7 linked regions of the Homo sapiens genome follow. The protein of the gene in region 1 interacts with the protein of each later gene in a biochemical or structural test. Each region holds a gene or a part of one and is shown in the gene's direction. Other genes may lie near its edges.

Region 1 (4,759 bases):
ACCCTGGCCAAACACCACATTCCCATGTGACGGGAGAAAGGAATTCCAATGCCATGAATTCAGAAGCGATGGATGGAGTGCAGTGTGCTCTTGTGTTTTTACGTGGCTACGAGGCGCTGCTGCTGGGTTTCCTAGTTCTTTTGACCTAGATTTTCTGCTTCCTCCCTTGCCCCCTCAGCACACACATACCCACATGTCCTTAGTGACACCAGCAGTCACATTTGATGTTAGAAACTATAAAGTTTTCTGTTCTCAGCAATCTCAAACTCAAATATGGGACACACTTTTATTCCTTCAGAATAAATGACTAAATTCAAAACATACACACATAATGCTTTAAAGAACGTATAAACCCTTCCATGTCCTATTCAGAGCTGGAGGCCTCCCTCATAAGAATACCACATTTGATGGAATTGTATTTTTTGAAAAGAGTCTACACTTTCTGAAGGACTTTCAGGTACCAGGGCTCATTTGATCCTCACATCAGCTCTGTGAGGTGCTAGGTGGCTATTATTATCTCCATTTTTCAAATGGCTGATTGACTTGGCCAAGATCACATATCTAGTGATGGAGCCAAGCTAGAAACCAGGTCTTCTCGTTCCCAACTCACAACACTGTCCCCTTCCTTCCACCTTGGAGTGATGTTAGAAATAGGTCATCATCTCCACTCAAGCACTTAGTTCTTTCCATTATCTTCCCATCTTCTTTTCTGGGAGAAAGAAGCCCAAGGGCCCTGTGACTTCAACTCCACCCACTTTCTGATGACTCTGAAACCCCAAGCCCCAACCTTAGCCTCTCTCCTGGGTCCAGACTGACATATCCAGCTGCTCCCTGAGCTTTTCTTCTTAGTTGAAGAATTCAACTCACAGTCACCCGCATGCAATCTGAAGCCCATGAGCCCTTTCTCAGCCCTGCCTCCTCTCATGTATCTTCTATTTCTGTAAAGCCGTCACCACCTACTCAGTCTCCCAAGCCAGAAATCCAGTGGCATCCCAGAGTCCTCCTCTCCCTTAGCTTCCAAGATTGGTCAAGAAATCCTGCCTGTTTGCTTCCTGAATTTCTCTAAAATATATCCTCACCTCCTCTTAGCCTAGGCCCTATCATCTCTTGACTGGAGGCCTGCGCTCATCTTCCTGCAGTTTTTCTGCCGACTTTAGCCTTGCAATCTATCTTCACATTCTGATCTCTGATACAGAGCTCTGTCGCTCTCTCGCTCTCTCTTAATTAGAGACAGAGTCTCTCTCTGTTGTCCAGGCTGTAGTACAGTGGTACAATCAGAGCTCACTACAGCCTTTAACTCCTGGGCTCACACCCTCCTCCCGCTTCAGCCTCCTGAGTAGCTGGGACTACAGGTGCGCTTCCACCACGCCTTGCTAAGTTTTATTTTTATTTTCATAGAGACAAGGTCTCGCTTTGTTGCCCAGGCTGGTCTCAAACTCCTGGGCTCAAGCGATCGTCCACTTGGGCCTCCCAAAGTGCTGGGATTACAGGCATGAGCCATCGCACCCAGCCAGAGCTCTTTCTGAACTCTAATTCTTACTGTTACTTCCCTGCTCAAAATCCTTTAAGGGCTCCCCCTACATTTCAAGATATTCACAGTCTACATTCCAGCCACCTGGAGGCATTTCATTCCCAGAACACACCACACCTCCTCAGAGCTGAAGGAGGAAGTCCATTGCCATCTGACTTGGCCTCAGTAACTCCTTTCGTTGCCAAGGCAAGTGGTCTCTCCTCTACATATGGATGCCTTTTCTATCTATTTCTGCTTTCTTCTTTATCATCACACTTCTATCAGTTAAGATATTTTCAGGAGCAAGAAACATAAACTAAAAATGGCTTAAACAATAACAAAGACTTGTAATTTCTCAAAGTCCAGAAGTAGGAAGGCTCCTGGGTATCATCTAATTCAGCGGTTCAGTGACATTATCAGAGTTCTTTCCATCTTTTGCTCTGCTATCCTTATTTAGAATTATTGTTCTAGTCTATATCAAAGACTTAAAAAAAATTTTTTTTTTGAGAGAGGCTTGCTCTGTTGCCCAGGCTGGAGTCCAGTGGCAAGATCACGGTTCACTGCAACCTTGCCTCCTGGGTTCAAGCAATTCTCCTGCCTCAGCCTCCCGAGTAGCTGGGATTACAGGCATGTGCCACCAGGCCCGGCTCCTTTTTGTATTTTTAGTAGAGATGGCATTTCACCATGATGGACAGGCTGGTCTCGAACTCCTGGCCTCAAGTGATCTATGTGCCTTGGCCTCTCAAAGTGCTGGGATTACAGGCGCGAGCCACCACACCTGGCCTCAGACTTTCAAAACATTCTCAGTGGCGGTGTCAAATATTTTGTCTTTTAATGGTGAATCTCATTTTTTGAGAAACCAGAAGCCACATACAGTCAAGTCTGGTGAGTAATATGAGTAACTGAGGTAGACAATAACATTTGGGGTCACAGTCAAAGTCAGGCCACAGAGTAACAAGACAGAACTTTTGGTTTTGTTTGGGATCTGGCTTTAAAAGCAAGTTTAGAAAAGGCATCCCAAGTATCTTGGGTTCCAGCCAAATATCTGTGAAATACACAGCATGTGAACACAAAGAGTTACTGTTTCCAAAGCTGGCCCCACTGGGATGTTTAAGTTTTAATCTGCCTGTTTAAAAAACAATAACAAATTGAATTTTTGAAAAGTTTCCTGGGCCTGGTGGCTCACGCCTGTAATCCCAGCACTTTGGGAGGCCAAGGCAGGTGGATCACTAGGTCAAAGGATCAAGACAGTCCCGGCCAATATGGTAAAACCCCGTCTCTCCTAAAAATATGAAAAATTAGCCAGGTGTAGTGGCGCATGCCTGTAATCCCAGCTACTCAGGAGGCTGAGGCAGGGGGATCGCTTGAACCCAGGAGGTGGAGGTTGCAGTGAGCTGAGATCCCGCCACTGCACTCCAGCCTGGCGACAGAGCAAGACTCTGTCTCAAAAAAACGAAAAACAACAACAAAAAAAAGAGAAAAGTTTCCTGGTTACCTGGAAGAGAAAAAAAAAAATACACCGTGGAGTAACCATTCTTCCTTCTCACCATCTGCTGAGATGAGGAACTTAAGGTGCTAACTGGGACAAATGAATTTCCAAAATAGAAAAAGGGATTCAGGGAAGTCCTTGAGTGCTGAATTTGGGAGGCCAAGCCACAGTGGGGTGACATGAGTGGACGGCACAAGTGGACAGAAATAACCTGGGGTCAGGAGAAGCTGACTCCAAAGGTAAACCCACGGCTCCTCCACAGGCCTGGGGTAAATCCTAGAACAGCTGTTGAGTTCTTTCAACTTATTAACATATTTTCCTCTAAGTCCAAAAGGGCCTTCTTTGCCTGGCAGCCCCTTTCTCTTGTTTTTTTGGTGTCCTCCCTCCAATGTCTTTGTCTTTCCTTTTCTTCCATGTAGATTTTAAGTAACCAAGAGGAGTGGTTTAAGGCGGAGCTTGGGAGCCAGGAAGGATATGTGCCCAAGAATTTCATAGACATCCAGTTTCCCAAGTAAGTATCTGCAGCCTGCTGAGATGGGCCTAGCCACACACACTCCTCTTACATTTCCAGCAGTCACTACAGTTATCCATGGGAACCCAAGACATTGTCAAAAATGGCTGCCTCTGGAGCTCTCTCCGGAGAGCCTCCAGAGCATGCAGCTGAAGGCCAGGGCAGGAGGGAGACTTTGCATTTCATTTCATTCCCTTTTGATGTTTACACCATGTGCATGTATTGCTATTTTAAGTTGTTCTTAACTTTTTTTTTTTTTTTTTGGGAGTTGGGGTCTCCCTCTGTCACCCAGGCTGGAGTGCGGTGACTCCATCACCACTCACTGCAGCCTAAAACTCCTGGGCTCAAGCCATCCTCTCACCTCAGCCTCCCAAGTAGCTGGGATTACAGGCACATGCCACCACGCCAGGCTAGTTTTTGTATTTTTAGTAGAGACAGGGTTTTACCATGTTGGCCAGGCTGGTCCCAAACTCCTGACCTCAAGTGATCTGCCGCCTCAGCCTCCCAAAGTGCTGGGATTACAGGCGTGAACCACCATGCCTGGCCTATTTTAAGTTTTGGGTTTTTTTGGGTTTTTTTATTCATGTGTTTATTTGTTTTGAGACAGAACCTTGCTCTGTTGCCCAGGCTGGAGTGCAGTGGCATGATCTCGGCTCATTGCAATTCTCCTGCCTCAGCCTCCCTAGTAGCTGGGATTACAGGTGCATGCCACCACACCCAGCTAACTTTTGTATTTTTAGTAGAGATGGGGTTTCACCATGATGGACAGGCTGGTCTCAAACTCTTGACCTCAGGTGATCCACCCGCCTCGGCCTCCCAAAGTGCTGGGATTACAGGTGTGAGCCACTGCACCCGGCCTATTTTAAGTTTTTATAAAATGAGTTTGTAAACTCAAATTATCTATAGTGATTTCAATCACGGCGTTCCCCAGAATTCCAAAGGGGACGCTATTGGCCACCCCACTTCGGGAGCTGCTCTCCTAAGCGCTTCTCTGTGACCTCCTAATCCTAACCATCCTCACCAGGCTCTCACCCTTCACTCAGTGGGTGGACAGACACTCCCTGCCTTCAGTAAAGCATGCTCACCCCAATGAGAGAAGTCAGCGGGGGGAAGGGGAAATTCTCTTCCTAAAGAGGAAATGAAAAATTGAGATTGGGCTTCGTTTGTCTCAAGAATTGACCACAAGGGTTAGATAGAAATCTAATCTTGCCTCAGAACCAGGGTCTAGCTCAAAGAGCAAAAGCTTGTT
Region 2 (4,759 bases), on another chromosome or scaffold:
CACTCAGCCCTCATCCTGCCCTTTGCCCAACAGTGACGCGCACTGTCTGTGCCGGTGGCTGTGCCCGCTGCAAGGGGCCACTGCCCACTGACTGCTGCCATGAGCAGTGTGCTGCCGGCTGCACGGGCCCCAAGCACTCTGACTGCCTGGTATGTGCCTCTGCTTTGTGCCCAATGTGCTCTACCCCCCAGGATGCAAGGGGTGGGCACCCTGCCTGGTACTGCCCTATTGCCCCTGGCACACCAGGGCAAAACAGCACAGTGAAAGCCAGCCACCTGTCCCCCCAGGCCTGCCTCCACTTCAACCACAGTGGCATCTGTGAGCTGCACTGCCCAGCCCTGGTCACCTACAACACAGACACGTTTGAGTCCATGCCCAATCCCGAGGGCCGGTATACATTCGGCGCCAGCTGTGTGACTGCCTGTCCCTGTGAGTGCCAGGGAGAAACACAGTTTTCTCATTTTGGTGGGGAGGTTTGTTTCTGTAAATGGGAGCATATGGGGAGCACTGTCTGCATCTTGCTTTGAGAGCTGGTCATGACAGTTCCTGCCGAGCTGCCTTGTTCTTTCAACAGCTGTGGAGCAGGTGGCAGTAAGGAGAGGCAGCTAAGAGCCCAGACTTGGGAGCCAGACTGCCTGGGTTTGAAACCCAGCTCTATCAATTAGTAGGCACGTGACCCTCTTGCTGTGCCTCAGTTTCCTCATCAGTAAAATGGGGGCAAGAATAGTCCCAACTGCATAAGATGGTTATAACATTTGAAAGAGTTAATATTTGTAAAGCTCTTAGAACGGTGCCTGGTATGTACTAAGTGCTCCTAAATGTTAGCTTTTATTCTATAGCCTGGTGAGGTCAGTTTTACCTTTCGTTTTGTTTTTGAGACCGAATTTAGTTAGCTCTATCGCAGTGGCGCGATCTCGGCTCACTGCAACCTCCGCCTCCCAGGTTCGTGCTATTCTCGTGTCTCAGCCTCCTGAGTAGCTGGGATTACAGGCGCCCACCACCATGCCTCGCTAAATTTTGTATTTTTAGTAGAGACAGGGTTTCACCACGTTGGCCAGACTGGTCTCGAACTCCTGACTTCAGGCGATCCACCTGCCTCGGCCTCTGAAAGTGCTGGGATTACAGGCGTGAGCCACTGCACCCGGACTTTTTTTTTTTTGGCAGAGTCTCGCTCCATTGCCCAGGCTGGAGTGCAGTGGTGCAATTTTGGCTCACTGCAACCTCTGCCTTCCGCATTCAAGCAATTCTTGTGCCTCAGACTCTTGAGTAGGTGGAACTACAGGCATGCACCACCATGGCTGGGTAATTTTTGTATTTTTAGTAGAGACGGAGTTTCACTATGTTGGCCAAGCTGGTCTCGAACTCCTGACCTCAAGTGATCCACCCGCCTTGGTCTCCCAAAGTGCTGGGATTACAGGCATGAGCCATCGTGCCTGGCCTAGCTCAGTTTTATTTAACAGATCACCTATTTACTGATGGGCGTTTATGGACTGGGCTCAGACCTGGGGAACCTCTTTCCTCCTCTCACAGGAACAGGAGTGGGCCTTCAGATCCTGGCTGACTGTGTTAGGGAGAGGACAAAATGTAGAGCCAGACCATTTGGGTTCAAATCCTCGCTCCTCCACTCACTAGCACAATGACCTTGAATAATTTACAGAACTCTCTGCTTTGGTCTCCCTTTTTGCAAAATGGGAATCTCACAGTGCTGATCCCGTCTGGTTGTTGTGAGGGGTAAATGGATGTCAGGTGCTGATGCGTGGTAGGGCATTTAAGTATTGGTTGATATTATTCTTCTTGTGCCTGGGCACGGTAATGCTGCTCATGGTGGTGCACGAAGGGCCAGGGTATGTGGCTACATGTTCCTGATCTCCTTAGACAACTACCTTTCTACGGACGTGGGATCCTGCACCCTCGTCTGCCCCCTGCACAACCAAGAGGTGACAGCAGAGGATGGAACACAGCGGTGTGAGAAGTGCAGCAAGCCCTGTGCCCGAGGTACCCACTCACTGCCCCCGAGGCCAGCTGCAGTTCCTGTCCCTCTGCGCATGCAGCCTGGCCCAGCCCACCCTGTCCTATCCTTCCTCAGACCCTCTTGGGACCTAGTCTCTGCCTTCTACTCTCTACCCCTGGCCCCCCTCAGCCCTACAAGTGTCCCTATATCCCCTGTCAGTGTGGGGAGGGGCCCGGACCCTGATGCTCATGTGGCTGTTGACCTGTCCCGGTATGAAGGCTGAGACGGCCCCTTCCCCACCCACCCCCACCTCCTCAGTGTGCTATGGTCTGGGCATGGAGCACTTGCGAGAGGTGAGGGCAGTTACCAGTGCCAATATCCAGGAGTTTGCTGGCTGCAAGAAGATCTTTGGGAGCCTGGCATTTCTGCCGGAGAGCTTTGATGGGTAAGAGTGGGCACGATGACCTGAGACAGTGTCAGGGCAGACAGAGTCCTGAGGATCCAGATGTGGCAGCATCTCTTGGGGATGGCAGGAGACAGAAGTGGGGGGATCAAGAATGCAAAGAAAGCAGATGGGAGACCAGAGGAGCAGGGCCTTTGGTGGGTGGGGGTGATTATTTTTGTAAATGACATGCTATCCGTGAACAAGGACTTGTATGGAGGTCAGACCATCTAGATAAAGTAAAATTCCCTTTGAGTTCATAGCAGCTTTATTCAAAATATCCCCAAATTGGAAATAACTCAAATGTGCATCACTAGGTGAAGGAATAAACAAGTGGCAGTGTATCCATTTGGTGAAGTTCTACTTAGCAACCAAAGGAAATGAACTACCGATACAACATAAATGAATCTCAGAAACATTACATTGAGCAAAAGAAGCCAGAGACAAGATTCCATACTGTCTGATCCCCTTTATGTGAGGCTCTGAACCGAAAAAACCACTCTGTGGTGGGAGAGATCAGAACGGTGGTTGCCCCAGGGTGGGGGGCTTCAAAAGGGAGGCACACAAGGACATTTCTGGGGTAATAGAAATGCTCTGTATAGTGATTGGGGTAGTGGATACATGAGCGAATCCATTTGTCAAAACTCATCAAACTGTGTGATAAGAGTCTGTGCATTTTATTTATTTCATTTTATTTTTTGAGATAGAGTCTCACTCTGTCAGCAGGCTGGAGTGCAGTGGTACGATCTTGGCTCACTGCAACCTCTGCCTCCTGGATTCAAGCAATTCTCCTGCCTCAGTCTCCTGAGTAGCTGGGACTACAGGTGTGTGCCACCATGCCCAGCTAATTTTTGTATTTTTAATAGAGATGGGGTTTCACCATGTTGGCAAGGATGGTCTCGATCTCTTGACGTCGTGATCCGCCCACCTCAGCCTCCCAAAGTGCTGGGATTACAGGCATGAGCCACCACACCCGGTGCATTTTATTGTATATAAGTTATACTTCAATAAGAAATGAATTGGGGCCAGGCACGGTGGCTCACGCCTGTAATCCCAGCACTTTGGGAGGCCGAGGCAGGCAGATCACTTGAGGTCAGGAGTTCAAGACCAGCCTGGCCAACATGGTGAAACCCCATCTCTACTAAAAAATATAAAAAATTAGCCAGGCTTCCTGGCATGCGCCTATCATCCCAGCTACTTGGGAGGCTGAGGCAGGAGAATTGCATGAACTCGGGAGGTGGAGGTTGTAGTGAGCTGAGATTTCGCTATTGCACTCCAGCCTGGGCGACAGAGTGAGACCCTGTCTCAAAAAGAAAAAAAAAAAAAAGGGTCAGGCGCCGTGGTGCACACCTGTAATCCCAGCACTTTGGGAGGCTGAAGCAGGAAGATTGCTTGAGCCCAGGAATTCAAGAACAGCGTGGGCAACATAGTGAGATCCCATCTCTACAAAAAAACACAAAAAATTAGCCGGGCATGGTGGTACGCACCTGTAGTCTCAGCTACTAGGGAGACTGAGGTGGGAGAATCACCTGAGCCTGGGAGGTGGAGGTTGCAGTGGGTTGAAATCATGTCACTGTACTCCAGCCTGGGTGACAGAATGAGACCCTGTCTCAAAAAAAAAAAAAAAAAAAAAATTCCCTTTCACACTTCCTTTACCTCCACTCCCCTTTCCAGAGGGGGCCATGGTTAACAGTGTGTGTGTTCACCTAGACCGTTTATGCATCTGTAGACACACACACAGTGAAGTGTGGTTTTCGTCGTTTTGGTGGGGAGGTTGGTTTCTGTAAATGGGAACATATAGGGAGCACTGTCTGCACCTTGCTTTGAGAGCCGGTCATGACAGTTCCCATTGAACTGCCTTGTTCTTTCAATAGCTGCAGAGCAGGTGGCGGCAAGGAGAGGCAGCTAAGAGCCCAGACTTGGGAGCCAGACTGCCTGGGTTTGAAACCCGGCTCTACCACTTACTAGGCATGTGACCCTTGTGCTGTGCCTCAGTTTCTTCATCTGTAAAGTGGGGGCAAGAACAGTCCCAACTTCATAAGATGGTTATACCACCATGCCTGGCCAGATGATTATAAAGTTTGAATGAGTTAATATTTGTAAAGCTCTTAGAACAGTGCCTGGCAGATACTAGGTGCTCCTAAATGTTGGTTTTTATTATGTGGCTGGGTGGCTCGGGGTTTTATTTAACAGCTCCCCTATTTACTAATAGACATTTAGATCATGTTCCATTTTCACTCTTACAAACAGTTCCACTTTGTGTGTGGCTCTGGGAACATGGGCCAGTGTCTCCCTAGGCCACATTCCTAGAAATAAGATTTCTTTTCTTTTTTTTTTTTTTTTGAGACAGAGTCTCGCTTTATCGC
Region 3 (4,759 bases), on another chromosome or scaffold:
TTGACCTCTTTTCCAGAGTACACTCATTTCATTTTATTTCTTAAACTCAGTAGTTATCCAGTTTGTTTTCAACATAGAAAGAATCCCTTTCAACTCAGTGGTCATCAGATTTAGACACAGACCAGTGTTTTGCGTAGCTGTGTCTGGTGTCATGGTAGAGCCACGGGGTATTAGTGTAGCAAAAAAGCAGAGACTTTGGGGTCAGAGCTCCTGGGTTTGGATATAAACTCTCCTATTTATATTGGGCAAATTACTTAATTTCTCTGTGCCTCATTTCCTTCATCTGTAACATATGATTATAGTACCTCGTGTTACAGAGTTGTAATAAAAATTAAATAAGCTAATGCATAAAAGAGCGTGCACAGAGCAGAGCTCAAAAAACATTCATTATTGGTCTAAATACTTAACAAAATCATACAGTAGTCATTTATTCCAGTTACTTCTGACAACCACCTAGTGGATACCTACCACATGCAGGTAAACTGAAAAGGAATAAAACGTGTCCCTAGGCATTAAGATGTTTACAATTTAGTGAAGAAAATAGATGTCAAACAAATAATTACAATATTATAAGAGCCTAATAGAGGTAGTACTATGAGATCAATGAAGCAGGAGTTACTAGCTCTGCTTAGGGAAGGCAGAAAAAAATTCCTATTGATTTTTCCTTTGTTCAGTGGAGTAAAAAAAAATACATAATGGTTTTGGGTATTCGTCCTACTGAGAGAGAGAACAGTGTGTGCGCGGGTGTGTGTGTCCTTATTTATTTGCGGGAGTCATGAAAGACAAATGCTTAGGAACTCTCCAGAATAAAAGAGACAATAGAAACATGACAATTTAGTGCTTCACTGACCAGTTCCTGTTTTGGGGGAAAATATTACCTTAAAGGATGTTATTAAAACAGTTGGCAAAATTGGAATATACACTATAGATTAGATTATGCAGTAGATTACTCGGTGTTAAATTTCCTGAAGTTGATCACTATACTGTGATTCTGTAAAAGAAAATCCTTGTTGTAAGATGAGCTATGAGAAATATTAAAGGAGTAAAGGAGAATGATACTATTTGAGAGTAATTTGTGATACATTTGACTTTTCCTTATATTCCAAAAACTACTGCAAAACCATTCAGCCGTAGTCCCCCTTCCTCTGGAAGGAACTGAGTGGATAGTATCACAACTACTAAAAAAACGATCTGCACACACTGGCACACAGAATGATGAAGCATGTGACAAAATGTTAAAAATTGGTGATTCAGAGTATTACAGGAGTTATTTGTGTTACTTTTACAACTTTTCTATAAATTTGATATTTCAAAAGAAAAAATTTAAGAGGGAAAAGGCATAATCAGAAGGCATCTTCAAGAGGAAGCATTTCAACTGTATCCTAGTGGCTAAATTCACCGGGTGGATAAGGAGGTCAGAGACTGTTGTGTAGAAAGCGAATGGGGGCATGAAAGTACATTACTTGTTTGCACATAGTTCAGTACAGTAATTTTTCTTTTCTTTTTCTTTCTTTTTTTTTTTTGGAGACAGAATCTCGCCTTATCACCCAGGCTGGAGTGCAGTGGTGCTATCTTGGCTTACTGCAATCTCCACCTCCTAGGTTCAAGTGATTCTCATGCCTCAGCCTCCTGAGTAGCTGGGATTACAGGCATGCACCACCACGTCCAGCTAATTTTTTTTTGTATTTTTTATTTTTATTTTCATTTTTTTGCGGGGGACAGAGTCTCACTCTGTCACCCAGACTGGAGTGTAATGGCACAATCTCAGCTCACTGTATTCTCTACCTCCCATGCTTAGGTCATCCTCTCACCTCAGCCTCCCAAATAGCTGGGACTACATGTGCACATCACCACGCCCGGCTAATTTTTGTATTTTTTGTAGAGACAAGGTTTCTCCGTGTGGTCAGGCTGGTCTTGAACTCCTGGGCTCAAGTGATCTGCCCGCCTTGGCCTCCCAGTATGTTGGGATTACAAGTGTGAGCCACCTTGCCTGGCCCAGTAATTTCTGTGTAAGATGTTTGGAACACATTCTTTTAAGTATCTGTAGAATATTAGTTGGATATTCATTAATATGATGTTTATCAAATCTCACTGCTGAAAATTCAAGAAATATTTAGCAAATTATCAGATTATTATGCCAAACAGAGCCGTTGTTTAATATACTTCCATTACCAGGAAATCCCACTCTAAATATCCTCAATTTTGTTCTCCTTTACAGCTTATAATTATTACATGGTTATTTAAAAATGACACGTGGAAGAGTTTGAGCAGCCTTAAGACCAAGTAGACAATGAAAATCATACCTTTTTGGTAGGATATCACTACTGGTGATAATTTAGATATTTGGATAAACAAAAACAAGAATAAAACAGTTCTAATTAAGTGTTTGATGTCATCAACATTCATATTTATTAAAGAAATATTTTAGAGTGGAGCTGAGAAGACTTTCTGTAAGAAATCTTTAAAGCAGCAAAATAAGTGATTTTGCCAGTAACTTTCACCTGTAGAAGTCAGAATAACCAAGCACAGATCTTTTTTCAAACTTTCTATGATATTTTGACTTTGCTTCCATCCTTTCTATTGCTTAGTCTAGAGATTAAGGTATTACTTCTAATAATAGTCATTTACATTATTTATGTTGCTAATCTCTTGATGACAAGACCTCTACATGTGTCTTGAAATAAAATCAAATGGCTCTGTGCTTCATATAGAGACTAATTTCTAAGACATAAATAAAAGGTAATGGACAAAGTTGTCAAACAATAGCCAGTTAGTTCTTTGCTGAGGAAAGGGAACCATTGCTGAATGCTTTTGAGATTGCTCTTGGAATATAAGGAAAATTTTAATTTATCACAAAATCTCTAATAAGTTAAAGATCACAAAATAGATTTAAGTTTTTAAAAATTTTCTGAAGTGATCATAATTCCCCATATCCTTGCATAAATATATATTTATAAATACATAATATATATAATATCTATATGATGTTCCACTTTGAACTCTTCTTTCAAAAGATTAAAACAGTTTGAGGGCAGCCTGGGCAGCATAGTGAGACCCCATCTCTACAGAAAAATTAAAAAAAAAAATTAGCCAAGCATGGTGGCACACATCTGTAGTTCTAGCTACTTGGGAGGCTGAGATGGAAGGATCACTTGAGTCCAGGAGGTTGAGGCAAGGCTGCAGTGAGCCATGATCACCTCACCGTATTCCAGTTTGGGTGACAGAGTGAGACCCTGTCTCAAAAAAAAAAAAAAAAATCAAAACATTGGAGCACAATACAATACAATCTGAATTATTTATTATAAGTAAATTTGCTTTCTTTCTGAGAGTGAAATACAAGAGAACATTTTGGGGCAAATGAAATAGAACCAGAGTTTTAGAGATTAATAAGTCAGTTTCTAAATCTTCTAAAGATTGAGATAGAATTAATTTTCATGGTTTCTTGACATTTCATATTGTAAAAAATAGCAGTGGAATCCTTTGAGAGATGCTGTTTACGGAAAAGTTTATGATAGATTGAAGTGTTAAAAGTTAGTACCCTTGATTATGTTATATAACAAAGATTTGTAAACTTGAAATTGCTAAAACAAAGTAATCATTAGAGAATATGAAATAGTTTATAGTTACTTATTTTCTCTATTCATAGTTGCTAATGAATAAAAGTAAGTTGTAAGCTTCATGCTTTAGGTGTTTTAAACTTTTTAAATATGTTTGGAAAATGTGGCCTGGCACAGTGGCTCACACTTGTAATTTCAACACTTTGGGAGGCAGAGATGGGAGGATAGCTTGAGTCCAGGAGTTTGGGACCAGCCTAGTGAGACCCTATCTCTACAAAAAATAAAAATAAAAAAATTAGCTGGATGTGGTGGCATGCAACTGTGGTCCCAGCTACTCGGGAAGCCTTATGCCCAGGAGATCGAGGCTGCAGTTAGCCCTGCCACTGTATTCCACCCTTGGTGACGGAGTGAGTAAGACCCTGTCTCAAAAAAATAAAAAATAAAAATAAAATGTCCGAATGGTTTTTACAGTTGCTTTTTTTTTTCCTGATTACTATGCTCATGTTAGTTTATATCTGTATTGTGTTTATGTTTATAGAAAGAAGGTTGGGCCAGGACTGGTGGCTCATACCTGTAATCCCAGCACTTTGGGAGGCAGAGGCAGAAGGATAGCTTGAGCAGGTGTTCAAGACCAGCCTGGGAGACATAGCGAGACCCTGTCTCTACAGAAATTTTAAAAATTAGCTGGGTGTGGTGGCATTCGCCTGTGGTCTCAGCTACTTGAGAGGCTGAGAGTGGAGGATCATTAGAACCCAGGAGCTCAAGGCCACAGTGAGTGAGATCCTGTTTCAAAAAAAAAAAAAAAAAAGAAAGAAAAAGGGTTGGTTTGAGAGGGCAGTAGGTATATATAAAATTATAGCTGTTTTTATTAAGTATATATAAAATTAACTTAGAGTTGATAATATTTGTTGCTGCTTTTTCTATTACTAGAAAGTTGGGGGAAGAATCAAACAATGCAGTTTTGATTTTTCTTTCTGTTTTTTCTTAGCAATTGAAAGCATGTAGTGAAGAACAAGAAGACAGAGAATGTTTGAACCAAGCTATTACTGCTCTCATGAATCTCCAAGGTAGCATGGACCGAATTTACAAGCAGTATTCACCTAGACGTCGACCTGGGTAATTCCAAAGTGTTGAAAACGTGAATGCCTCTGCTTACTTCGCTGTCTCTGATGCCTGGTTTTCAAAGAAGTGTGATTTATTGT
Region 4 (3,500 bases), on another chromosome or scaffold:
AAGGTGCGTGGGGCATGGGGACCGGCAGCCAGGCCTGAAGAGTGGGGACAGAGAGCCGGCGGCCACATGGGTGGTGACTGGGGACTGGGTGTGATGGGGGGCAGTGGGATGTCCTCTTTCTTTCACTTCTTCCCCTCAATGGTTCCACGATCATCTATGGGGCAGGACTGACAAGGTGTCGGGGCAGGGAGACAAACCACATGTGAGCAAATAACTCAGTGGGCAAGGTCATCTCAAGTCATTGGACATGCTACAAAAATAAACATTCAACATGGTAGCTGAATAAGGAGTGTGTAGGGCGGGGAGCCTCACTGAGAAGGAAACACTTTATTAGAGCGGAAATCTGAATGACATGAAGAAGGTGGCTGTGCAAAGATCTGCTTCAGCAGGGGGACAGTGAGTACCAAGTGGTGAGGTGGGGACAGGCTCTGAATGTTCTAGGTATGGAAAGAGGACGGAAGCTCAGCCTCAGACATGGATTTCCCACTGGGGGCCTGCCTAAGGCCAAGTGCTGGGCATGTGTAGGAGGGATGCTGAGCCAAGAGGCAGGGAGGAGATGGTGGGTGCGTGTGATGGCTCTCGCGGTGGCCAGGTAACAGTGGAGGTGGAGTCTCACCCTGCTGGGATGGCAGGCAGGATTCTGGTTTCTGGGAGGACTGGTGAGAGCAAGCAGGACCCCAGCCTGAGGACCTGGGCTTGAGACAGCAATCAGTCCCTGTAACAAGGGCCAGGGTCAGAGTGAAGCAGCTAGCCCAATGCCACTGGGATCTGAAGCCACTAAACCTGCCCAGGGGGTCAAAGGACCCCAGCTGTGTGGGCAGAGGAGGCCATTAGGGCTCTTTCCTGGCATTTCATCCTGCAGAGCCCTGGGCTGGCCAAGAGCCAAAGGTCCTGGGCCCTAGTTCTGCCTTGACACCCCCTCAGGGACCTTGGGTGAGTCCTTTCATGTCCCTGGGCCTTAGGAATCTGGATTAGATTATCTTTCAACAGCAGCAATGGGCATAAATATGAATTCAAGGCCTACTGTGCATCAGGCATCTTGCTGGCTGCTGGAATATTCCTGTCACGGATTTGACATTCGACTAGAGTCTAACTATTAAATAGAAAGTAAATACAAATGTGATGAGCAAGAAACCAAGCTGGGGAGTGGCGGGCATGGAGGTGCTGGGGAGGCTAATTCATATCAGCTGGTCACAGAAGCCTTGCTGAGGAATTTTTGAGCTAAAGATCTGAAGGATGAGAACAGCCTCCCATTTGAAGTGTGGGAGGAAAGGCATTCCAGGAGGGAAAGGTGGGTGCAAAGGCCCTGTGGTAGGAAAGAGGTCCAGCGGGCTGCAGTGCAGTGAACAAGGGGTGGGGTTATCAGGGCGGTCAGAAACAGGTTGGGCTGTGGAAGGACTTTGACTTCTTTTCTGAGAGTAATGGGAAGCCCCAAATGTTTACAGAGGAGAGAGGCATGGTCCCATTTATATTTGTAAGAGGTCACTTTAGTGAAGAATCTAGGTGTGGGGGGCTTGGAGGGAGGCAGGGAGGTCTCTGAGGAGGCTGGTGCAGAAGTCCAGAGTGGAGAATGGTGACGGGACTGGGGAGGGGTAGAGGTGATGGAGAAAGTAGACTTTCCAAGGTCTCTTTAGGACAGGCCTTGCAGTGGGGGGACTGGGAGCATCAAGGCTGCCTCCCAGGATTTGGGATGGGGCAGTGATGGGGACCCTGGCCTGTGTGTCCTGGCCCATGGCAGGGAGGAGAGCAATATCTCTATCATGTTCAGGGAGCCTGGGTGTTCAGGGGTCTCTCCCCCGGTCTCAGTCATCCCAGGGCCCCCAGCCTTGACACTGGTGCCTGCAGAGCTGGTGCGGATTCGAGGGGAGGCTGCCCAGATCGTGTGCTCAGCCAGCAGCGTTGATGTTAACTTTGATGTCTTCCTCCAACACAACAACACCAAGGTCAGTCCCTGCAGATCACAAGGTGAAGTCTGGCCATCCTCCCAGCACACCAGGTTTCCCATGGTGGAGTCCTGGGCCCCCAACTCCAAACTGGCTGTCTTAGCTGAAGGCACAGCTCAGACTCCAGAGAGGGGTGCAGACTCACCCGAGATCTCACTCCCAGTCAGTAGCTGACACAGAATCAGGACTCATGCTTGTGCCGCTGAACTTTGTGGGGGTGGGTGGGGGGAGGTGGTTCTCTGTCACCTTGACACATGGCCTTTGCCCCAGCCTTTAGACAAAAGCCAGAGGTGAGCTCACTTCTGATTTAGCAAGGGTTTCCTAGGCCACCATTGAAGCCCAGGAATATAACAGCTATTTCAGAAAGACATTGGGAGAGAGGGAGGAGGAGGGAGGATTCCAGGAGGGACTCACGTTGGGCTGCCTCTAAGAGCCCCCTCCCTTCCCACTGCACCTGCCGTGTTCCAGACACAGCCCTAAGCCACTTGCATGCATATCTCATTTACTCCTCACTACAGTCTTGGGGCAGGGAGCCAGTATTAGCCCCATTTTACAAGTGAAGCAACAGGCTCAGAGGAAAGGCAGATAGTAATCCTTAAAGGCTGAGGATTGGAACCCAGATCTTTCTAATCCCTAAACTACCTTGGTATAACATCTCCATTCCTTCTGGCTGCAGCTCGCAATCCCTCAACAATCTGACTTTCATAATAACCGTTACCAAAAAGTCCTGACCCTCAACCTCGATCAAGTAGATTTCCAACATGCCGGCAACTACTCCTGCGTGGCCAGCAACGTGCAGGGCAAGCACTCCACCTCCATGTTCTTCCGGGTGGTAGGTAAGCATCAGGGTGGTGGTGGACAGTCGGTAGGGATCCTGCAGGAGTGTGAGCAGAAGGGTTTTGAGGAGGAAGCTGATGTCAGGGAAGGAGACCTGCTGAGGATATCTCTGCTGGAGTTTGTTTATCCAAGGCCTGGCTAAGGAGCCACTCTCCAGGAGCTTTCCCTTACCCTCTCCTGGGATCTCTCTCCCATCTTGGAGCTCTTACAGTGCATGGCTGCATTGGGTGCACCTTAGTGCCATTTTTTGTTTATTTGGGGATTGGGGTCCAGTAGCTCCCTACTGGACTTCATTTGTTCATTCTTTCATGCATTCCTTTATGGAAACATGAAAAGACAATGATCACCCAGTGATTATGGGGGAAGCACAAGGTGTCCTGGGAACACTGAAGAGTCCCCCCAACCCAGGCTTCGAGAAGGTGGCCTCTAAACTGGGATGGGAAGAATGAAGGTGAGTTGGCCGGGCAGAAGGGTGGGAAAGGAAGGGGAACAGCGCTTCTGGCAGAGGGAGGAACATATGCAAGGCTCAAAGGCAAAGAGAACATAGATCATTTGGAACACTGAAAGAACTTGACAACAGCTGGGATGTGGAGTGGTGTGAGGAGTGGCCACAGGGGAGCAGAGGAGGTGGCAGAAGCCGGAGGTAAAGGTGTCTTAAAGTGAGAAAGAATAACTGCATCTTAACCTATTGGGAGGTCATTGTAAAGAGGAGAGTGATGG
Region 5 (4,759 bases), on another chromosome or scaffold:
TATTCCAGAATGTTTTGAGAGTAAATTGCAGACAGCAATGACATTTCACCCCTAAATACTTCAGTATGTATCTCCTGAAGTACTCTTATTCCTACTCTTATTATCACATCCAAGAAATTTGACATTGAATATAATAGTATTATCTAATATTCAGATTTCCCCAGTTGTCTGTATCTAAAATGTCATATAAATTCAGGGTTCTGTCAAGGTCCCACATTGCATTTAATTGTCATCTCTTTAGTCTCTTGAAATCTAGAACAGTTCCTATCCTTTGTAGTCTTTTTTAATCAACATTTTAAAAAGAAACCAGGACAGTTGTCTTGTAAAATATCCAACAACCTGGATTCACGTGATTGTTAGTTCTCATTTTTGCAAGAATATCATATAATTAAGTGTTTTGTACATCTCATTTTATCATATTAGGGAGGCACATGATGTTGGTTTGCCTCATTATTGGTGGTACTAAATTTGATCACTTAAAGTGGTGCTCACTTTAGTAAAGGTATATTTTACTCTAATTTTAGCTTCCACTGATGAAGGCTGCCTGCCTATATTAGTTATTAAACTGATGGTTTCACATCCTCACATTTTTGACTGAATTGATCATGCACCCTACTATGAACCAAGGGAATTTCCCCCCCAGCTTCCTAGTGAAATGGGGTATGGTTGTTTCAATAAAGACTGGTTGAACTCATTCTGTATTGGTTGCCCAGTTGCCCAATTTTAAAAACTGACAGGCATTTCTGGGACAGTTTCTCACTGTTGACATCCATAGTTGTGTACTAGAAACAACCTGGCTGCGTTTTTTTGTTAATGATTACTTTTGTTTTCTGCTCTTAGTGTGGATGATTTGGCTCTGAGCATATATCCACCTATGTGTCACCTGACCGTGCGAATCAATGTAAGTACTGGCTTTGAGGGAATAGCTACAGAACAAATGGGCAGAATTTCACTAATCACTAGTATTTCCTGTAAGCTATAGGGTACATATTTATTAGTCACATTTGGATGGAAGTACAACAGTAATGTCACAGTTCTTGCATGCGTTTGGGGTTGATAAATATTCACTGAAGTTGAATTATAATAGCCATGAGCTTTGGTAGTTCTCTCTTCCATAATCACCTGGGTAATCATTCAGAAAAGCCCAAAGGCCTTAGAAAATGATGCTTTAAGGCTGGGCGCGGTAGCTCACACCTGTAATCCCAGCACTCCAGGAGGCGGAGGTCAGGAGTTGAGACCAGCCTGGCCAACATGGCGAAACCTTGTCTCTACTAAGAATACAAAAATTAGCCGGGCATCATGCACCTATAATCCCAGCTACTTGGAAGGCTTAAGCAGGAGAATCGCTTGAAGCCGGGAAGTGGAGGTTGCAGTGAGCCGACATCGCGCCACTGCACTCCAGCCTGAGCAACAGAGCAAGACTCTGTCTCAAAAAAAAAAAAAAAAAAAAAAAAAAAAAAAAAGCTTCTTTGAAAAGAAAGTCTTAATTACACGGTAATTTAGGAACTTCTCAACTTGAAGTCACAAGTTTCTAATTTCTAGACTAGGCAGCAATTAGATTGAACTTCAGCTGTTCATGAAGTAGCTGGCTGAGGTCACATGTTTCTGATTTCTAGACAAGGCAGAAATAAGTGTTCCAGAAACATACTCTGTTCTAATACAAACACATTGTGTGATTTAACTATGGAGAGTCAACTTTCTTATAAAAATCTGATTTTATTGTATTCTTTGAGGTTCTGTGCCCTTTACTAGAGAGAGTTCTGTTCTCTCTAATGTTATTGGAAAGAGCAGTAAAACTGCCAAATGGCTTATATTTTACAATTGAATGTATCAATTCTAGTAATATTTGATAAATTGGATAATGGAAATTAGATTCATCAGATGTGTCTTCATGATGTATAAACACCTTGAAGTAGAATAGGATCCTTTTGGGCATTAACATTTTTTTGGCATTAACTTTTAAAAAATTGACTTCCTAAGAAATAAACATTTTTAGCAATATGCCTAGTCAGCTATCCCAAACATAGTATCTGCTCTAGCAATTTTAAAATGTGTACTGCATATGCATCTTATATGTATTGATATTTTATATTAAACGTCTCCATCTTATCCTTATATTGGTGTTCTTAAAATTCTTAATGCGCTTTTTTTTTTTTTTTTTTTTTTTTTTTTTTAAAGGAACCTTAGTCATTTCTGCTTTATATTTTGAGCTATCAGCATTTGGGACCAATTCAGGTTACATTTTCCTTTTTCTGTCCTTTTTTAAATTGAAAATATTTTAGATCTAAAAAATCTTATTAAAATGTTATAGCAATAGTATTAATAAGATCTTGCTAAATAGAAAAGAACCCGTAATCCTGCCACCCTAACCTAATCAGCATTTTAAATTTTGCATACTTCCTTCAGGTCCTTTTTCTAAATAATTTTTTTATTACTTGGGTCTTTAAAAATATTTGAACTCACCTTTTTATGGTAGGGCTCAGGGTGAATAACTTCTGTGTTTCTTTTCTAGTCTGCGAAACTTGTATCTGTTTTAAAGAAGGCACTTGAAATTACAAAGTAAGTATGAAGACTTCTCAGATAGCTTTTTGTGAGTAAAACGGAACTGCTGTCCAGACGTTCTCAACTCCCTAGCTCCCATTTCAAGGAGTGGGAAAGGGTGGGTGTGGGATTTTCTTTCAGCTTCAGTTGTGGGGCAGCTGAGATTCTGCAAAGAAGCTTCCCTTTAAAAAAATTTTAGTTTTCCCTGTGCTCCCTCCTGAGGATAGGTTTTCCCTTGACATCCTAATAAGTTTAACTTACTTCTTTCCTATTCTATTCACAGAGCAAGTCATGTGACCCCTCAGCCAGAAGATAGTTGGATCCCTTTACTTATTAATGCCATTGATCATTGCATGAATAGAATCAAGGAGCTCACTCAGAGTGAACTTGAATTATGACTTTTCAGGCTCATTTGTACTCTCTTCCCCTCTCATCGTCATGGTCAGGCTCTGATACCTGCTTTTAAAATGGAGCTAGAATGCTTGCTGGATTGAAAGGGAGTGCCTATCTATATTTAGCAAGAGACACTATTACCAAAGATTGTTGGTTAGGCCAGATTGACACCTATTTATAAACCATATGCGTATATTTTTCTGTGCTATATATGAAAAATAATTGCATGATTTCTCATTCCTGAGTCATTTCTCAGAGATTCCTAGGAAAGCTGCCTTATTCTCTTTTTGCAGTAAAGTATGTTGTTTTCATTGTAAAGATGTTGATGGTCTCAATAAAATGCTAACTTGCCAGTGATTAAATGAGTGCCCTTCCAAAGTTTCTTTTTACCAGAAATACAGTGGATTGAGACTAGAACATTGCTTTCATTTGGGTTTGTAGGTTTAAAAATCTGATTCTAATCAGAAGTATATTTAGAACAAAACACTTTATTTATAAAAGATGACTCCAAAATTCATCTTAGTATTTCACCATGTTATATATTATTATCAGCAAGTCCTTCTGAATATTATCACAGATTACTCCATGTCTCTAAAATATATTGGCATTGAGCTCATTTGTTAGGTTTGCCCACCTTATTGAACAGATTTATTTTCCTTATACATACTTGTGTTGTCCTTGGTTACGTGTGTCCCCAAATGTAAATACCAAATTTTTATAAATCAAAAATTTTTTAGTGTGTAAGAGATTTTATGTAATTTTAAGGGCCTTTTCAGTTCATCCTTTTGCAAAACCATCACCACTTAATTATACTTTTGCATCAGTCTAGAAGACTGCATATTGGAAAGCAGTGTAAATCTATAATGATGTATATTCTGGTGAGCTGAATAGGGCATTATGCATGTCCTACAGGTCTCCGCCACCTCTCATGCCCATCATCTTCCTTTTGTAGGTGTAATTCATAACATATGCCTTTCTGCTGTCTTTAGGTATAATCAGCAACAGCAGTCATTCTTTGAGTGACTAATGTATACTTGGGGTTGGGGTTGAAATTCCTTAAGCCAAATGAGTTTTAGCTTACTGTTTTGAAGTGCCATTTTGTATTGTTAACAAGTGTCATGAAGGGAAGGAACTAAAATCAAACTGACAGAGTGTCAAGGCAACAAAATAACATAAACAAAATAATAACATTGTACAACAGTCTAGTTCTTTTATCCTTTCATATAGAGCCTATTTTTTATATACTTTTATATTTCTCTACTGGACCAAATTCATGTTATTAACATCAGACTTTAATTGTGGGATACTTAATGAATATAGAACTCTAATATAAAGACTTACCTCTAGCTGAATTATTCTCTCAGGTCCTGTATTGTATAACTTCGTTCAGTCATGTTTGGATCTTTAAGGATAATGATCAGGGAAAGCACTGATCAATGTAATTTTTTTTTTTTTTTTTTTTTTTTTGAGATGGAGTCTTGCTCTGTCCCCCAAGCTGGAGTGCAGTGGCACACTCTCGGCTCACTGCAACCTCCGCCTCCCAGGTTCTCAAGCAATTCTCTGGCTTCAGCCTCTCAAGTAGCTGGGACTACAGATGCACACCACCATGTCCAGCTAATTTTTGTATTTTTAGTAGAGATGGGGTTTCACCATGTTGGCCAGGCTGGTCTCAAACTCCTGACCTCAGGTGATCTGCCCACGTCAGCCTCCCAAAGTGCTGGGATTACAGATGTGAGCCACCGAGCCCAGCTTGATCAATGTAATTTTAAGATTACCTAAAAATTCCATTTTGGGATAATATCCCACTTCATCAGAAATATTAGAA
Region 6 (4,759 bases), on another chromosome or scaffold:
TGTGAACTATTTGGTTTCACTATATGGTATTCCATGTTATTGCTTTAAGCAGACTTCAAAATTTGCATTTATTTACCAGGGCAAAAATAAATTGTTTTTCCTATTCAGAAATTGAGAAGATTCAGAAAGGAGACTCAAAAAAGGATGATGAGGAGAATTACTTGGATTTATTTTCTCATAAGAACATGAAACTGAAAGAGCGAGTGCTGATACCTGTCAAGCAGTATCCCAAGGTAAGGCAAAAAGTGCTTTGGATCTTTGAGTTATCTTTATAGTTATGAGAGAGTCATGGGCTATAATAAAGACTCCTGGGGATTGTGATGCTTTAGAAACTTAAGCCTGTGAAGCTTCTCTTTCATGCTTGTAGTACCTGTTACTGAGAGTTGAAATATCTAAGTTCTTAACTAATAACATAGCTATAGCCAGGAAGGAAATATAATCATCTTTTTATTATCAAAAAGTTTCTTTCTCAAATGATTGCTCAGGCTACAAGTTCAAAGAAAAAAAAATTAAAACCTGAAGAGTTGCTCTTTGTCAAAAGACTAACCTGAAATCTAAATAAAAGGAAATATAATATGAATCCTCAATTGGTTGAAGTTAATTTTATTTTCTTACTAAAAGTTTACTTTTAAGTAAATGCTTTTTTTCTTCCTTTTTTTTTTTTTAGGAAAGCATTTAGTTACATTTAGTTTATCCAGCGTGTTATCAAAGGGTGCTATATAGTCTCTTCTGTTCTGAGGTCACTGCCTTAAAAATGTTGATGTATGTTAAGTGCTGGGCCAGGCACAGTGGCTCATGCCTGTAATGCCAGCACTTTGGGAGGCCGATGCAGGCAGATTGCTTGAGCCCAGGAGTTCAAGACCAGCCTGAGCAACATAGCGAAACCCCATCTCTACAAAAAATACAAAAATTAGCCTGGTGTTGTGGTGTGCACCTGTACCCAGCTACTCTGGAGGCTGGGGCAGGAGGATCACTTGAGTCCAGAAAGTTGAGGCTGTGATGAGCCATGATTGTGTCACTACACTTTGGCCTGGGCAACAGAGTGAGAGCCTGTCTCAAAATAAAGTAAAAAATAAAATAGTAAAGGTCTTAATGTATTATGGAAGAGCACCAGAATACATCAGAAAAGCCAAATTCAGGTCTAGGAACTGCCACTTTCTAGTTTCATAACCTTAAGCTAATCACTTTATTAATATGGCTTCAGTGTCCTTCAGTAAAATGGGAATGGTAATACTCTACCTTTGCAGGGTTGTTTAAAATCAAGTGAGGTAATTTATGTGGAAATGTTTTTATATAGTAGCATGTATATTTAGAAATCCTCTATTTTCTGTCAGTTCAATTTTGTGGGGAAGATTCTTGGACCACAAGGGAATACAATCAAAAGACTGCAGGAAGAGACTGGTGCAAAGATCTCTGTATTGGGAAAGGGCTCAATGAGAGACAAAGCCAAGGTAAGCTCACATTAGTGAGGCAAGAGGACATCCTAATGCCTTCTACTTGCCCAGAATGCAGTATGGATGTCTTATAGAGGCGGCAAGAATTTTGTATGTGTACAGAATGTGGCTCCTTTAAGTTTGCACTGGATGCAAGAGATTATACACCAAGTTAATTTACTTGGCTTGGCAACCCTGGAAGAGCCTAGGTGTGCCCTGGTGATAGTTTTCTTTTGGACTTTTTGACTGTGTAGTAATGGAAACAGCAGTAGCATGTTGCGCATTGGTAGGATTGTCTGTGAAAACTTGAAAGGGGAACTGAATATACTAAAATTTAGTCTAAAGCAGACAAAAGACGCTAAAATGCAAATAGCACACCCCCTTTTTTGTAACCTGGAAAAGTGAGAACAATAATGTGAGAGCAGATGAGTTTGAGGATTAGTTGGTTTGTTTTATAGCCGGTTTGGAATGTGAGGCTCACTAAAAGAATGTATTCCAAAAGGAACCATGAGTAATCCTGACTACAGAATCTAATGCGTCTTTTTTTTCCCCATGCCATAGCCGCGTACGCTGTGTACTCTGTGACAAGAAACTTCTCACCAAAACAGAATAGTCTTAGCCTTCTGGGGTCACCTTATTTGATGAGATATTCCTGCTACAGTCCAAAAACCAATTCTTTCAACCCTCCTTTTATGTAGTCTAATGGACACATGTTTGTTTTCTCAGGTCATTTCTTGCTAGATGCATATAGTTACGGCTGAAGTGTGTTCTAACTAATGAGATTTACATGAGCTTTTCTTCCCTCTGTCCTGACTTCTTTCTTCCCCTACCACTCCCTAGACCATATAAGCAGATAAGCAGAGCTCGTGGTGATTAACAGCTCTACCTGTGATTTAAAAACAAATGCTTGGCAAACAGCTATTATCTGAATAGACTAGAATTAAGTTTTTCTTCTTTATGCTTTTAGTAGGAGCTCCAATGGATATCTCAGGGATTTAAGACAACAATTAACTGTAAGCAGCAGACCATGTGCAAGTTTAGCAGGCTGTGCAAATTACTGTTCTTGAGAGTTTGTTTTACTTTTTTTTTTTTTCTTGAGAGGGAGCCTTGCTCTATTGCCCAGGCTGGAGTGCAGTGGCTCACTGCAACCTCCACCTCACGGGTTCAAGCAATTCTCCTGCCTCAGCCTCCTGAGTAGCTGGGATTACAGGCGTGCGCCACCATGCCCGGCTAATTTTTGTATTTTTAGTAGAGACGGGGCTTCATCACATTGGTCAGACTGGTCTCGAACTCCTGACCTTGTGATCCTCCCGCGTCAGTCTCCCAAAGTCCTGGGATTATAGGCGTGAGCCACCGCGCCTGGCTGCTTGTTTTACTTTCTTAAACTTTACTGTTTTTCTTTTTTCTTTTTTCTTTTTTTGTTTAATTCTTCTCAGCTCATACCAATTAACTTTACTGTTTTTCATGGACATTAGGGGTATTTCTTGCTGTTCCTTTGGCTTAGAGGTAAAGGTGGTGTTTTCTCCCTAGTCCATGGTGTGACATTTCTCTGCATTTTTCCATAGGAGGAAGAGCTGCGCAAAGGTGGAGACCCCAAATATGCCCACTTGAATATGGATCTGCATGTCTTCATTGAAGTCTTTGGACCCCCATGTGAGGCTTATGCTCTTATGGCCCATGCCATGGAGGAAGTCAAGAAATTTCTAGTACCGGTAAGGAAATCCATATCCTGTGTCTTCTGAGCAAAAGAGAACTGGGATCTTATACTGTTGTGAAGGTAGGGGTTCTTAACTAAGGTCTCTGCATAACCTGTATGTATACCAAATTCTGCACTTATGTTCATTTTCCTTAGGTAGTTCGTTACTTGCACCTAGTTCTCAAAGCATTATGCTCCAAGGCCACTCTATCCCTCCTTGTCTAATGTGGTTTTCATTGTGTACCGGTATCTTGTCAGTATCTCGGGTCCACAGTGTGCCTGCATTCTGATATTTGGTTAACTAAGGTTTAACAGGGTCTTCACCTAGCTGAGTATTTTGGTAGTAGTGTGGAACAAGGAGATTGTGTTAGGAAAGTGACTAAGGTGGGTCTCTGCACTCAAGAAGTTCATGCTGTAGAGAGTAGAGACTAGCAGCAAGAAGCTTATAGCATCTAGTGTTATTGGGTTAAATTCTGACCTGAGCACACTCAGGGATTTCTTTCCTGGAGGAGTTTGCTGAGGACGAGTTTAGTTTGGAAGAGGTTGACTATTGATGTTTAACAGATAGGTGAGCAGCTTTTTTCAGACTATTACTGAGGACTAGATAGAGATGGGACAGGCCAGTTTATCTATCTTGCTTGTTACCACCTTTGAATACTTGGTTGGAATATTACTTTGAATAAATAGGAAATGGTACTATTTTTGCCTTTTAGCAAGGCCTGGTGGTTGTCAGAGTTAACATACTACTGTTGAATATTTAATAACAAGGATGAATCTGGAGACTTATGAAGGATTTGGAATATTATTAAGTAGAATTGAGTAAGCGTCATGTGTTCATCAGAAAACTAGGAGGAGGTAAGATACAGTCCTTGGTTTTCTTGAATGTTAAATGAGGGAATTAGAACTAAATGTGGTGTCAGATGATGTGAAAATTGATAGGGCAAAAATTTATAGGCAGTGTGGGCCAGGCACGGTGGCTCACGCCTGTAATCCCAGCAATTTGGGAGGCCGAGGAGGGCAGATCACCTGAGGTCGGGAGTTCGAGACCAGCCTGACCAACATGGAGAAACCCTGTCTATTAAAAATACAAAATTAGCCGGGCGTGGTGGCACATGCCTGTAATCCCAGCTACTAGGGAGGCTGAGGCGGGAGAATCACTTGAACCCAGGAGGCAGAGGTTGCGGTAAGCTGAGATTGCACCATTGGACTCCAGCCTGGGCAACAAGAGTGAAACTCCATCTCCAAAAAAAATAAATAAATAAGTTTTTAGGCATTGTGTACCCATAATGCTGAACTCCAAGGATTCCAACAGTCTCAAATGTCTTAGCAGCTGCTTTGCTTTCAAGTACCTCATCTTCATTAGAATGTTCAACATGAGGCAGGGCGCGGTGGCTCACACCTGTAATCCCAGCATTTTGGAAGGCCGAGGCGGGTGGATCACGAGGTCAGGAGATCAAGGCCATCCTGGCTAACATGGTGAAACCCCGTCTCTACTAAAAATTCAAAAAAAAAATTAGCTGGGCGTGGTGGCAGGCGCCTGTAGTCCCAGCTAATCGGGAGGCTGGGGCAGGAGAATGGTATGAACCCGGGAGGCGGAGCTTGCAGTGAGCCGAGATTGCGCCACTGCACT
Region 7 (3,514 bases), on another chromosome or scaffold:
TCTGGATCTCGAGATAAAACCATCAAGCTATGGAATACCCTGGGTGTGTGCAAATACACTGTCCAGGTAAAGTGAGCCATCTCCAAGGATCTCTTCCACCCTCTTAAACTTTGCTTTTTTTTTTTTTTTTTGGCGACAGTCTCACTCTTGCCCAAGCTGGAGTGCAGTGGCGCAGTCTCGGCTCACTGCAACCTCTGCCTCCCGGGCTCAAGGGATTCTGGTGCCTCAGTCTCCCGAGTAGCTGGTACTACAGGTGCGCAGCCACCACGCCTAGCTAATTTTTTGTGTTTTAGTAGAGACAGGGTTTCACCATGTTGCCCAGGGTGGTCTCAAACTCCTGGGCTCAGGCGATTTGCCTGCCTCGCCCTCCCAAAGTGTTGGGATTACAGGCGTGAGCCCCCACCTGCCTATCTTTGCCTTTTTTTTTTTTTTTCTCGGAGACAGTTTCGCTTGTTCCCCAGGCTGAAGTACAATGGCGTGATCTCGGCTGACCACAACCTCCGCCTCCTGGGTTCAAGCAGTTCTCCTGCCTCAGCCTCCCAAGTAGCTGGGATTAGAGGCATGCGCCACCATGCCCGGTTTTGTATTTTTAGTAGAGACAGGGTTTCTCCATGTTGGTCAGGCTGGTCTTGAACTCCCAACCTCAGGTGATCTGCCCGCCTCAGCCTCCCAAAGTGCTGGGATTATAAGCGTGAGCCACCGTCCCCCGCTTTCTTTGCCTTTTTAAAGTCTTGTCTGGGCTGGGCTCACGCCTGTAATCCTAGCTCTCTGGTAGGCCAAGGTGGGAGGACTGCTTGAGGACAGGAGAGCAGCCTGGCCAACATAGTGAGACCCCATCTATTTAAACAAAATTTTATTTATTTTTTTTCTTTTTTGAGATGGATTCTGGGCTAGATCGCAGATTTGGGATCGCAGATTGGGGGCTGGATCGGGGATTTGGGGATGGGTGGGGGGCGGTGAAAAGGTGAAAGGGAGTTGCCGCAGCTCAGAAGCCGATGGTTGGGTGTCTGAGAAGATTACAGGCGTGTGCCATCATGCCCAGCTAATTTTTGTATTTTTAGTAGAGATGGGGTTTCACCATGTTGGCCAGGCTGGTCTCAAACTCCTGACCTCAGGTGATCCGCCCGCCTCAGCCTCCCAAACTGCTGTGATAACAGGCGTGAGTCACCGTGCCCGGCCTTATCACTACTATTTTGTTTTGTTTTGAGACAGTCTCATTCTGTCGCCCAGGCTGGAGTGCAGTAGTGCGATCTCGGCTCACTGCAAGCTCTGCTTCCCGGGTTCACGCCATTCTCCTGCCTCAGCCTCCCGAGTCGCTGGGACTACAGGCGCCTGCCATCAGGTCTGGCTAATTTTTTGTATTTTTAGTAGAGACAGGGTTTCACCATGTTAGCCAAGATGGTCTTGATCTCCTGACCTCATGATCCATCCACCTTGGCTTCCTAAAGTGCTGGGATTACAGGCGTGAGCCACCACACCAGGCCCTATTATTATTATTATATTTTTTTTGGAGATGAAGTTTCACTTGTTCGTTGCCCAGGCTGGAGTGCAATGGCACAATCTTGGCTCATTGCACCCTTCGCTTCCTGGGTTTAAGCAGTGTTCCTGCCTGAGCCTCCCCAGTAGCTGGGATTACAGGCACCCGCCGCCACACCTGGTTAATTTTTGTATTTTTGGTAGAGACAGGGTTTCACCATTTTGGCCAGGCTGGTCTCAAACTCCTGACCTCAGGTGATCCACTTACCTCGCCCTCCCTGGGATTAGAGGCGTGAGCTTCTGCGTCCAGCCACCATCTCTAAATTTTTAAAAAATTTTCTTGTCTGGAATCTAAAGGGATTCTATTGAGCTTAAAGGTTTGGGTTCTTGGTTTTTGAAAGGTGCTGCCAGCCATCATCCTACTGAGGGGTAGGGCTGGGAGGTCTAGCATTTCATGGGATAGGACTGTTTGCCCTAATTTCCTTTCCATCTTCTGTAGGATGAGAGCCACTCAGAGTGGGTGTCTTGTGTCCGCTTCTCGCCCAACAGCAGCAACCCTATCATCGTCTCCTGTGGCTGGGACAAGCTGGTCAAGGTGAGCGTCAAGCCAAGGCAGGGGCTTTACCAGTCAGGGTGTGCTCCCAGGTGGTCATACACTCCAAGTCCTGTGGAAAGCTTTGCAGATGCCCTCAGTTGACTCTTTCTCTTGTCACATGGTCTGATGTCCCTTGTAAGTCAGCACACTGCATTGGATATGTGTTATAATCTAACGTGAAGTGGCCAGGACATGTTACTGAATGAGAAATGGCTACCGTATCCAGAAGTGCCAAGCCCTTTTTTGTTGGGCCTGACCCTAGCTCATCAAGAGCTAGGATGTTCACCTGTCAACCGCACGTCTATGCAGGTATGGAACCTGGCTAACTGCAAGCTGAAGACCAACCACATTGGCCACACAGGCTATCTGAACACGGTGACTGTCTCTCCAGATGGATCCCTCTGTGCTTCTGGAGGCAAGGTATTTGGGGACAAGGCGTCTCCTACTCAGTGGAAGACAGCGTCATGGAAGGAGCACTTAGCCAGCGTCTCTAACGTAAAATGGCAAACATTAGCCAAGATGGTTTTAGGAGGATAATGAGATAATGGCAATCTGAGAATATGTTTCCAAAGATTACTTTCAGCAAATGACAGTTAAGGCATACTATCTGGAAGAAAAAGATGATTTTCTATAAGCCTGTGGGTTTTTTTTGTTGTTTTTTTGTTTGTTTGTTTTTTGTTTTTTTTTTGAGACGGAGTCTCACTCGGCTGCCAAGGCTGGAGTGCAGTGGCGCGATCTCGGCTCACTGCAACCATCTCCCGGGTTCAAGCAATTCTCCCATCTCAGCCTCCCGAGTAGCTAGGATTACAGGCACCCGCCATCACTCCTGGGTAATTTTTGTATGTTAGTAGAGAGGATTTTACCATGTTGGCCAGGCTGGTCTTGAACTCCTGACCTCAGGTGATCCGCCCACCTCGGCTTCCCAAAGTGCTGGGATTACAGGCATGAGCCACCGCACCCAGCCTAAAGTTGGTTTCTTGAAGCAGTTGATGAGATTGGGATCCTGGTTTTCAGAAATGATTGGAGTGATTTATGTAAGTTGGGAGGGGTTTTTTGATGGGGTTGGTAAGGTCTTACGTTAAAGGAAAGGTATACAGAGATAAATATTGGTACTTGAGTCATTAGCTTTCAAAGAAGCCTGGGGTAATGGAGGAAAGGTAAGAATTGATTCTGACAGAATCTTGAGATGGGCAGAATTAACATCTGGAAGAGGTCACAGTGTCCTGATTTACCTTACCTGTGTCCAGGATGGCCAGGCCATGTTATGGGATCTCAACGAAGGCAAACACCTTTACACGCTAGATGGTGGGGACATCATCAACGCCCTGTGCTTCAGCCCTAACCGCTACTGGCTGTGTGCTGCCACAGGCCCCAGCATCAAGATCTGGGTGAGTGTGGGTTACAATTGACTGGGTACCTGGCTGCACTCTGAGCCCTGGCAAT

The links.
Region 2: the proteins of GRAP2 (region 1) and ERBB2 form a complex in vitro, tested with the Homo sapiens proteins (2 studies listed by BioGRID and IntAct, with this or other methods).
Region 3: the proteins of GRAP2 (region 1) and SOS2 form a complex in vitro, tested with the Homo sapiens proteins (one study listed by BioGRID).
Region 4: the proteins of GRAP2 (region 1) and CSF1R form a complex in vitro, tested with the Homo sapiens proteins (one study listed by BioGRID).
Region 5: the proteins of GRAP2 (region 1) and CCNDBP1 form a complex in vitro, tested with the Homo sapiens proteins (one study listed by BioGRID).
Region 6: the proteins of GRAP2 (region 1) and KHDRBS1 form a complex in vitro, tested with the Homo sapiens proteins (one study listed by BioGRID).
Region 7: the proteins of GRAP2 (region 1) and RACK1 form a complex in vitro, tested with the Homo sapiens proteins (one study listed by BioGRID).

What each region holds. Positions count from the first base shown.
Region 1 is NC_000022.11:39,952,401-39,957,159, forward strand, and holds part of GRAP2 (GRB2-related adapter protein 2), read left to right. Parts: intron 1-3,418; coding exon 3,419-3,510; intron 3,511-4,759. UniProt on the Homo sapiens protein: Interacts with SLP-76 to regulate NF-AT activation. Binds to tyrosine-phosphorylated shc.
Region 2 is NC_000017.11:39,710,053-39,714,811, forward strand, and holds part of ERBB2 (receptor tyrosine-protein kinase erbB-2 isoform a precursor), read left to right. Parts: intron 1-33; coding exon 34-149; intron 150-287; coding exon 288-429; intron 430-1,875; coding exon 1,876-1,995; intron 1,996-2,269; coding exon 2,270-2,396; intron 2,397-3,100; coding exon of another isoform or gene 3,101-3,217; intron 3,218-4,759. UniProt on the Homo sapiens protein: Protein tyrosine kinase that is part of several cell surface receptor complexes, but that apparently needs a coreceptor for ligand binding. Essential component of a neuregulin-receptor complex, although neuregulins do not interact with it alone.
Region 3 is NC_000014.9:50,161,396-50,166,154, reverse strand, and holds part of SOS2 (son of sevenless homolog 2), read left to right. Parts: intron 1-4,545; coding exon 4,546-4,673; intron 4,674-4,759.
Region 4 is NC_000005.10:150,076,555-150,080,054, reverse strand, and holds part of CSF1R (macrophage colony-stimulating factor 1 receptor isoform a precursor), read left to right. Parts: coding exon 1-3; intron 4-1,806; coding exon 1,807-1,943; intron 1,944-2,619; coding exon 2,620-2,779; intron 2,780-3,500. UniProt on the Homo sapiens protein: Tyrosine-protein kinase that acts as a cell-surface receptor for CSF1 and IL34 and plays an essential role in the regulation of survival, proliferation and differentiation of hematopoietic precursor cells, especially mononuclear phagocytes, such as macrophages and monocytes.
Region 5 is NC_000015.10:43,191,903-43,196,661, forward strand, and holds part of CCNDBP1 (cyclin-D1-binding protein 1), read left to right. Parts: intron 1-840; coding exon 841-901; intron 902-2,512; coding exon 2,513-2,559; intron 2,560-2,824; coding exon 2,825-2,939; 3' UTR 2,940-4,759. UniProt on the Homo sapiens protein: May negatively regulate cell cycle progression. May act at least in part via inhibition of the cyclin-D1/CDK4 complex, thereby preventing phosphorylation of RB1 and blocking E2F-dependent transcription.
Region 6 is NC_000001.11:32,030,190-32,034,948, forward strand, and holds part of KHDRBS1 (KH domain-containing, RNA-binding, signal transduction-associated protein 1), read left to right. Parts: intron 1-108; coding exon 109-233; intron 234-1,334; coding exon 1,335-1,451; intron 1,452-2,998; coding exon 2,999-3,145; intron 3,146-4,759. UniProt on the Homo sapiens protein: Recruited and tyrosine phosphorylated by several receptor systems, for example the T-cell, leptin and insulin receptors. Once phosphorylated, functions as an adapter protein in signal transduction cascades by binding to SH2 and SH3 domain-containing proteins.
Region 7 is NC_000005.10:181,238,044-181,241,557, reverse strand, and holds part of RACK1 (small ribosomal subunit protein RACK1), read left to right. Parts: coding exon 1-66; intron 67-1,975; coding exon 1,976-2,071; intron 2,072-2,380; coding exon 2,381-2,491; intron 2,492-3,318; coding exon 3,319-3,459; intron 3,460-3,514. UniProt on the Homo sapiens protein: Scaffolding protein involved in the recruitment, assembly and/or regulation of a variety of signaling molecules. Interacts with a wide variety of proteins and plays a role in many cellular processes.